2 linked regions of the Homo sapiens genome follow. The protein of the gene in region 1 interacts with the protein of each later gene in a pairwise test. Each region holds a gene or a part of one and is shown on either strand. Other genes may lie near its edges.

Region 1 (4,699 bases):
CTCACACAGAGTCCCTTCGGGGGCACTGCCTAGTAGAGCTGTGAGAAGAGGGCCACTGTCCTCCAGCCCCCAGAATAGTAGATCCACCGACAGCTTGCATCTTTTGCCTGGAAAAGCCACAGACACTCAACAACAGCCCATGAAAGCAGCTGGGAGGGAGGCTGTACCCTGCAAAGCCACAGGGGGCAGAGCTGTCCAAGACCATGGGACCCCACCTCTTGTATCAGCATGACCTGGATGTGAGACATGGAATCAAAGGAGATCATTTTGGAGCTTTAAGATTTGACGGCCCTGCTGGATTTCGGACTTGCATGGGGCCTGTAGCCCTTTTATTTGGCCAATTTCTCCCACTTGGAATGCCTGTATTTACCCAATCCCTGTACCCCCACTGTATCTAGGAAGTAACTAACTTGCTTTTGATTTTACAGGCTCATAGGCAGAGGGACTTGCCTTGTCTCAGATGAGAATTTGGACTGTGGACTTTTAAGTTAATGCTGAAATGAGTTAAGACTTTGGGGGACTGTTAGAAAGGCATGATTGGTTTTGAAATGTGAGGACATGAAATTTGGGAGGGGCCAGGGGTGGAATAATATGGTTTGGCTCTATGTCCCCACTCAAATCTCATCTTGAATTGTACTCTCATAATTCCCACATGTTGTGGGAAGGACCCGGTGGGAGGTAATTGAATCATGGGGGCAGATCTTTCCCATGCTGTTCTTGTGATAGTGAATAAGTCTCACAAGATCTGATGGTTTTAAAAGGAGGAGTTTCCCTGCACAAGCTCTCTCTCTTTTTGCCTGCTGTCATCCATGTAAGATGCGACCTGCTCTTCCTTGCCTTCCACCATGATTGTGAGGCCTCCCTAGCCAGGTGGAACTGTAAGTCCATTAAAACCTCTTTCTTCCCAGTCTTGGGTATCTCTTATCAGCAGCATGAAAATGGACTAATACAACAGCTAAAGAAGAAAATCTTCTGTCTTTCACAAGCTGAAAGACAGAAGAAACTACACAGAAAGATGATACATACAGAACAGATGGTTAAGAGACATACAAGTGAGGAAGACTAACATAAGTAACTGGAGCCATGGAATGAAAAGAGATGGAATGCAGCAGAAGCAAAATCTCATGGCTAAAATTTCCGGGAGAGGGGGGCAGGCCATGTGGGAGATAATCTTTGAAAGAGTAGCGGTTAGAATGAAATAGCTGAATTCTCAATAGCAGCAATGGAATCCAGAAGACAGTGGAACAGTACCTTCAACATGAGGAAAGAATAACCACCAAGCTAGAATTCCATACTCAGTGAAAACATCCTTCAAGGTTGAAGTTTAAGTAAAAACATTCACAGACAAGCAAAAATAGAACTTGTTACTAGCAGATCCATGTTAAAGCAAATATTAAATGGTGTCTTTAGGCAGAAGTAAAACCATCTCAGGAGACCAGTTGGAGATGCAGGAAAAAAAATTAACATTATTTTTTAAATAAAAATATTGTTCGCTGGATGCGGTGGCTCACGCCTATAATCCCAGCACTCTGGGAGGCCGAGATGGGTGGATCACCCGAGGTCAGGAATTCAAGACCGGCCTGGCCAACAGGGTGAAACCCCATCTCTACTAAAAACACAAAAATTAGCTGGGCATGGTGACGCACACCTGTAATCCCAGCTACTCGGGAGGCTGAGACAGGAGAGTTGCTCCAACCCAGGAGGCAGAAGCTGCAGTGAGCCAAGATTGTGCCACTGCACTCCAGCCTGGGCGACAGAGTGAGACTCCATCTCAAAAAAAAAAAAAAAAAAAAAAAGTCCTGTGGTGTTTAAAATACAGTTGTCCCTTCAAATCCTCTTGAGATTGTTTCTAGCATCTTGATGTGTAGATGCTCAAGTCCCTGATATAAAATGGTGTAGTAGTTTCACATGACCTATTCACGTCCTTCTGTATCATTTCTAGGTTACTAATACTAATATTATAATACCTAATACAGTGTAAATGCTATACAAATAGTTGTTGTATTGGCCTTTTATTTGTATTATTTTTAATTGTTATATTGTTACTTTTAATTTTTTCCTAATACTTTTGATCAAAATTGGTTGAATGTGCAGATGTGGAGCCCACAGATAAAGAGAGCCAACTGTATACCAAAAATGAATACAAAGGACAACAATAGCATATAGGATGGGCGCATGAAATGCAAGTGTTCTAAGAAATTTGTATTATCCCTGTAGAGGTTAAAAGTTCCAAGTACATACAACGTTTTGCTTTTCCTTTTTTTTTTTTTTTTCAACTGGACACAGGCTCTCACTCTGTCACTCACGCTGTAGTGCAGTGGTGTAATCATAGCTCACTGCACCCTCAAACACCTGGGCTCAAGTGATCAGTCATCCCACCACAGCCTCCCAAGTAGCTGGGACTAGGGAGCACGTCACCACACCCAGCTAATTTTTTTTTGGTAGAGATGGGATTGCACTACATTGCCCAGGCTGGTCTCAAACTCCTGGGCTCAAGTGATCCTCCCACCTTGGCCTCCCAAAGTGCTGGGATTACAGGTGTGAGCCACTGAGCCTAGTCAACATAAGGCATTGATAAATAAAGGATGTATGTTACAATTTCTACAGGTATTGATAATAGTAAAAGCTTATAACTTTCAAACTAACAAGAAAAAAATGAAAAAATACAAAATTTTCAATCACTACAAAAGAAAACGCCAAGAAAGAGAAAAGTAAACAGAACAGGTAGGGCAAAGAGAAAGCATATAGAAAAGAAGGTAAATTTAAATCTAAATACATGTCAGTGATTCTGTTTAACGTAATTGGAATAAATGCTTCAGTTTAAAGCCAAAACATAGGCAGAATAGATGAAAAAATAAAACCAAAGCCATAACACTGATAGTAAGTGATTACAGACCTCAAGTCTCAGTATAATACAGGCTCAAGTTATAACTGCAAGGCTTAAAAAAGTTGTGATAAAGGCCAGGCATAGTAACTCACACCCGTAATGCCAATAATTTAGGAGGCCGAGGCAGAAGGATCGCTTGAGCCCAGGACTTTGAGGCCAACCTGGGTAACACAGTGACATTTCTGTCTCTACAAAATATACAAAAATTAGCCAGATGTGGTGGTACACATCAGCAGTCCCAGCTACTCCAGAGGCTGAGATGGGAGAATCACTTGAACCCGGAAGATCAAGGCTGCAGTGAATCATGATTGTGCTGCTGCACCCCAGCCTGAGCAACAGAGTGAGACGCTGTCTCCAAAAAAAAAAAAAAAAAAATTAAAGAAGAGCTTCTAATCCAAACAACACTACCTGCAGCTGCCAGATGAGCTGTCACCTCATCAGCTGCTGTGGAGTTGAGTATATCTGAGTCATCGTAAGAGGTGTCCTCGGGAGAAGAAGGCGAGTCTTCATCAGCACTCAGCATACTATGCTCGGTGTAAGTAGCCACATGGACCTGCTGCACTTGCTGGGCCACTGCATGTGCTTCTATGGTAGCCATATGTTCGGTTTGGGTCACTCCGTGTTCCTCCATGAAGTTCTACTGTCAGACAAAAAAGAAAAAGAACAGGATTCAGTGTGTAATATAACACAATGTTTAAACTAAGAGATATTTTATTCAAGAGCAGAGGAACCTTGACAAAATTCCAATTTCACTACTTACCGTGCCACACCAAGTCACAGGAAATGGGAAGCACCATGCAAATGTGACATAAAAATGACAGAGTGGTGTTCTTACGTGAAACCATTTTGATGGAAATTCGCTGTACTAATTTTATACCTCAGATCACAAAACAACAGATACCCTTAATAATAAAAAGACATTCAAATATAACAATAAAAACATACTTAAGATAGCTCAGTGACTAGCATTTGGCCTTGTGAACATAAGAACACTTAGTAAATAAGTGAAATACTTAACATTTTCTTTGTATGTCAAAGACGAGTGAGAGTCAAATAACTTTTTTCCCAAAAATTCAAATTGGTCTTTCTGCTTATAAAACTGCTTCTTGAGGGCATGGCGGCAAGTGCCTGTAGTCCCAGCACTTTGGGAGGCCCAGGCAGGTGGATCATCTGAGGTCAGGAGTTCGAGACCAGCCTGGCCAACATGGCAAAACCCTGTCTCTATTAAAAATACAAAAAAATTAGCCAGGCGTGGTGGTGGGCGCCTGTAATCCCAGCTACTTGGGAGGCTGAGGCAGGAGAAGTGCTTGAACTCGGGAGGCAGAGGTTGCAGTGAGCCAAGGTTGTGCCATTGTACTCCAGCCTGGGAGACAGAGCAAGACTCTGTCTCAAAAACAAACAAACACCCCCTCCAAAAAAAAACCCAAAAAACTGTGCTTCTTGTAAACCCCAAAATGATACAGTAATGTATAAAGCAGTAAGGTTAAAAGTTGGCTCTTCTATTACACTTATAATCTCCACTCCCCCCCACCCCAGAAGTTCATTATTTTTGAAAAATAAATTTGGAGCATACATATATATAGATTTAAAATAAAAACAGGTTCATATTATACATATTGTCTGTCTTTTTCATATTACAATATATCTGGACATTGTTACATGTCAAAACATAACAGATCTACCATATCTTTTTTAAACAGCTGCATAATACTTTATTATATGCATGTGTCATAATTTATATAACCAGTCACTTGCTGATCAAATATGCTGCCAAGTTTTTGCTATTATAAACTAAACATCAATGCAGTATAA
Region 2 (4,170 bases), on another chromosome or scaffold:
ACTCCAATCACACTAAATCTTTTATATGAAAGATCGTGCACGTTCGTCCTGGTATAGTGGGAAGGGGACCTGCACGAGGGAAAACGGCTGCCTCGAAGAGGCAGGGACCACGCGGGATGCGCCCGCGTCTGAAGCCAGACCCCCGGCTCCCCGAGGGAGAACAGGACGGAGGGCGGGGCTGTGGGGAGCGGAGGGAATGAAGGTCAGGGAGGCGGCGGGGACCCCCTGAGCTGGCACAGGCCCCGGGAACGTCTGTGGAACAGGGGACGGGATGGGGCGTGGGGGAAGGAGGTGCGGGCTGCAGGAGCGGGGGTGATGGGGTCACTCACGGCGGCGGGACTGGGGGTACTGGGTGGGGGGGTCGGGTGGGGCCGGGGCTGCAGTGGAGGGTGTGGGGCGGGGAGATGCCCTCATTGCCCGCGCACTGGCGCCCGAGCCCAGAGAAGAGAGCGCCGGCTTCCCCGCCAGTGGCCGCAGCACCCCAGGAGCGCGGGAACCTCCGGACCCACAGCGGGGCGCGGCCGGGGCAGGTGGGGGGCCCAGGCGAGGAAGCCCCCTCTGCGCCCTGGGCTGGGCGAAGGGCCCTGCGATGCGACGGGGGCAGCCCCAGCGCGCGCCCAGTCCTCACGTCGCCACCGAGCGGCGCCCCCGCCCCAGCCCGGAGCCCCGCAGGGCCGCCCCCACCCCTGCCCACCCTCCCGCGGGCCGGGGCAGCCCCCCGCCAGCCACCCCGCGTTCCCAGGAAGAGGGACCGGTCATTACTCATTCATGTCCTTTCATTTCATTTCAATATTTTCTGCAAAGTCATCGCCCGCGCCGCATCTGCGTGGCGGGGGGCGGGGTGGGGCGGAGCCACGCCGCGGAGTCGCCGCAGGTAAACAGCCCCCTCCCCGCGGCGGGAGCGGGGCCGCCGGCCCCAGGCAGGGACAGCAGCCGCCGCCCGCGCTCCGGGCCGGGATCCCGCCGCCGCCCCCGCCGGAGGCACGCGCCAGGGCGGGGGCCGGGCTGCGGCGGAGGCGGGCGGCTCCGGTGCCCCCCGCCGCCGCCCCGGCCCGGCCCGCCCGCCCCCTGACCCCGGGGGCGGCGGCGGAGCGCCCCCCAAACCCCGCTGCGGGCTCCGCGCCCGGCCAGCCCCGCACCCGCCGCGCGCCTCCGGCTACTCCCATCCCCCGGAGCCCCCCGCTCGGTCCCGGCGTCCCCTGCCACCCTCTCCCGCGGCCCGCGGCCCCGTCCCCGTCCCGCGCCCCCACGCTCCCCGATCCCCGCCCCCGCGCCGCGCGTCCCCTCCCGCCCGCGCCCCCCTCGCCGGGCCCCGCCCCGCGCCCCCCGCCCCGCCCGCGCCCCCCGCCGGGCCGCGCCCCCCGCCCCCCATGCACCACCTCCTGGAGCAGTCGGCGGACATGGCGACCGCGCTGCTGGCGGGAGAGAAGCTGCGGGAGCTGATCCTGCCGGGCGCGCAGGACGACAAGGCGGGCGCGCTGGCCGCGCTGCTTCTGCAGCTGAAGCTGGAGCTGCCGTTCGACCGGGTGGTCACCATCGGCACCGTGCTGGTGCCCATCCTGCTGGTCACCCTGGTCTTCACCAAGAACTTCGCAGGTGAGGCCGGCGGCCGGGGCGCGGGGCGCGGGCAGAGGGGGCGTCCGCAGGTGTCCGGGAGCTGGCGCTTCCCGCGTCCCCGGCGGCTCCGTCCAGCCGCGCCCACCGTGGCCTGGCTGCGTCCGCGGCGTCCCAGGCACCTTCCACAGCCGCCCCCATCCTAGCAGGTGTCGCTGGTCGCACAGACCCCTCGTCTCTATTTTATTGTTGTTCTTCCTTCCATTCGTCCGCCCATGGCCGCGGGTGGGACTAGGCCTGTCTGGACCCAGGGGTCCCAAATGTCATGAGACACGGGGTCTGGTTTGGAGAATGTCACAAGCAGCGCCTGAGGGGATGCAGGGTGGCCAGGTGGGGACCAGGAAAGGCCGGGATGGGTGTTGACAGCAGAGAGCTGATTACAGGGGCTGGTGGAGCTGCCGGGCAGGGTTCCCAGGCTGGACTTGGGTGGAAGGAGGGCAGAGAGAGTCTCTGAGAGGCCCAGGCCCTCCACCCCTCAGGCAGGGCGAGGCCTCTCCGGGTGCACTGGGGGCCTCCGAAGGTTTGAAGCAGGGGGGCTAGCATGGGGCAGGGCCACGTGTCAGAGCAGGGAGCCTGGAGCTCCTGCAGGGAGATGGGGGCTGGACCAGGGCAGGGACCCGCGCTGGTTAGATCAGGACCTGTGGGGGCACTTGAAGCCACCCAGGCGAGGCAGGAAGATGGACAGAGCAGCCAGCCTGCCTGTGAGCCTCTGCGGGGTGGGGTCCTGGTGCCTCTGCCCTCCCCAAGGAGTGGGGCGAGACAGGTGGAGCCGAGAACTTCCTCCCCTGGGGTCTGGGCCAAGGCAAGGGGGATCAGGGTCTCCTGGCCTGTGTGGCCCAGAGGTACTAGTCTGCAGCGGGGAGGGGTGTTGGGACCCTGGGGCCCTCTCTTCTGCAGCCTCCAAACCTCAGCAGACCCTGCCTCAGCACTGGCGCTTCCCAAATCTCCCAGATGCCTTGCCTTAAGGAGTCCCCGTGGCCTGGAGACACCAGGCCTGAGGGTGGACATTGGCCAGGCTGTCTGATCCCACCCAGGGGTGGAGGAGGCCTCTGCTGGTCTCCTCTTCGACACTGGAGGCCAGACCCCGGGGATTAGAGGACCCCTGGGGTGGGCACACAGCACACTCTGCAGAGCAGGGAGCCCAGGCGTGCGGTGGGGCCTTGGGGCAGGCCCAGCATGTCCAGACACCACGTGTGTTCTCTGTGTTTGTAGCAACCAAGTACCGCAAACTAGGCAGTTTCAAACAGCAGACATTTATCTCTCATGGTTCCGGAGGCCAAAAGTCCAAAATCGAGGTGTCGGCAGGGCCCTGCTCCCTCCCACAGCTCTAGGAAAGGGACATTCCAGCCTCTTCAGCCTCTGGTGCTGCCGGCAATCCTTGGGCGCCTTGGCTCGTGGCCGTGCCACCAGTCTCTGCCTCTGTCTTCTCATGGGCTTCTTCCCTCCCTGTCTGTGTCCAAATTTCCTTTTTTTTTGAGACAGAGTCTTGGTATGTCGCCCAGGCTGGAGTGCGGTGGTGCGATCTGCAACCTCCACCTCTCGGGCTCAGGTGTTCTTCCTGCCTCAGCCCCGAGCCCCCAGTAGCAGGGACCACAGGCATCCCACACCACACCCAGCTAATTTTTGTGCCATGTTCCCCAGGCTGGTCTCAAACTCCTGGGCTCAAGTGATCCTCCCATCTCAGCTTCCCAAAGTGCTGGGACTACAGGCGTGAGCCACTGTGCCCTTTTCTCTTCTTCACCACCCCCCCGCTTTTTTTATTTTTATTTTTTGAGACAAAGTCTCGCTCTGTCACCCAGGCTGGAGTGCAGTGGTGCGATGTCGGCTCACTGCGACCTTTGCCTCCCGGGTTCAAGCGATTCTCCTGCTTCAGCTTCCCAAGTAGCTGGGACTACAGGCACCCGCCACCACGCCTGGCTCATTTTTTTTTTTTTTTTTTTGAGACAGAGTCTCGCTCTGTCACCCAGGCTGGAGTATAGTGGCGCGATCTCTGCTCACTGCAAGCTTCGCCTCCTGGGTTCACACCATTCTCCTGCCTCAGCCTCCCAAGTAGCTGGGACTACAGGCGCCCGCCACCATGCCCGGCTAATTTTTTGTATTTTTAGTAGAGACGGGGTTTTGCCATGTTGGCCAGGATGGTCTCGATCTCCTGACCTCGTGATCCGCCCACCTTGGCCTCCCAAAGTGCTGGGATTACAGGCGTTGAGCCACCGTGCCTGACCCATTTTTTGTATTTTTAGTAGAGACGGGGTTTTGCCATGTTGGCCAGGCTGGTCTCGATCTCCTGATCTCAGGTGATCCGCCCGCCTCGGCCTCCCAAATTGCTGGGATTACAGGCATGAGCCACCGCACCCGGCCCAACTTTCTTCTTTAAAGCGGAAAGGAAGCGAGCGCTCTGCCCCCGAGCACCCTCCCAGGAGCCTATGGGCTGGTTCCTCTTTTTGGCTTCATCATCCTTGGAGGGCCGAGCGCAGCCCCTGATGCCGCAGGGCAGGGTTGGGCCTGAGGGCCCGTGTGGCCAGCTGCTGTCTCAGGATGCAGTACCCTCGAAGGTTG

The links. Proteins that work in one complex are often made in the same cells at the same time.
Region 2: the proteins of NRF1 (region 1) and PANX2 interact in a two-hybrid assay, tested with the Homo sapiens proteins (one large-scale study listed by BioGRID).

What each region holds. Positions count from the first base shown.
Region 1 is NC_000007.14:129,656,171-129,660,869, reverse strand, and holds part of NRF1 (nuclear respiratory factor 1), read right to left. Parts: intron 3,528-4,699; exon of another isoform or gene 3,525-3,527; 5' UTR 3,519-3,524; coding exon 3,296-3,518; intron 1-3,295. UniProt on the Homo sapiens protein: Transcription factor that activates the expression of the EIF2S1 (EIF2-alpha) gene. Links the transcriptional modulation of key metabolic genes to cellular growth and development.
Region 2 is NC_000022.11:50,169,361-50,173,530, forward strand, and holds the start of PANX2 (pannexin-2), read left to right. Parts: upstream 1-1,370; coding exon 1,371-1,596; intron 1,597-3,899; exon of another isoform or gene 3,900-4,170. UniProt on the Homo sapiens protein: Ion channel with a slight anion preference. Also able to release ATP. Plays a role in regulating neurogenesis and apoptosis in keratinocytes.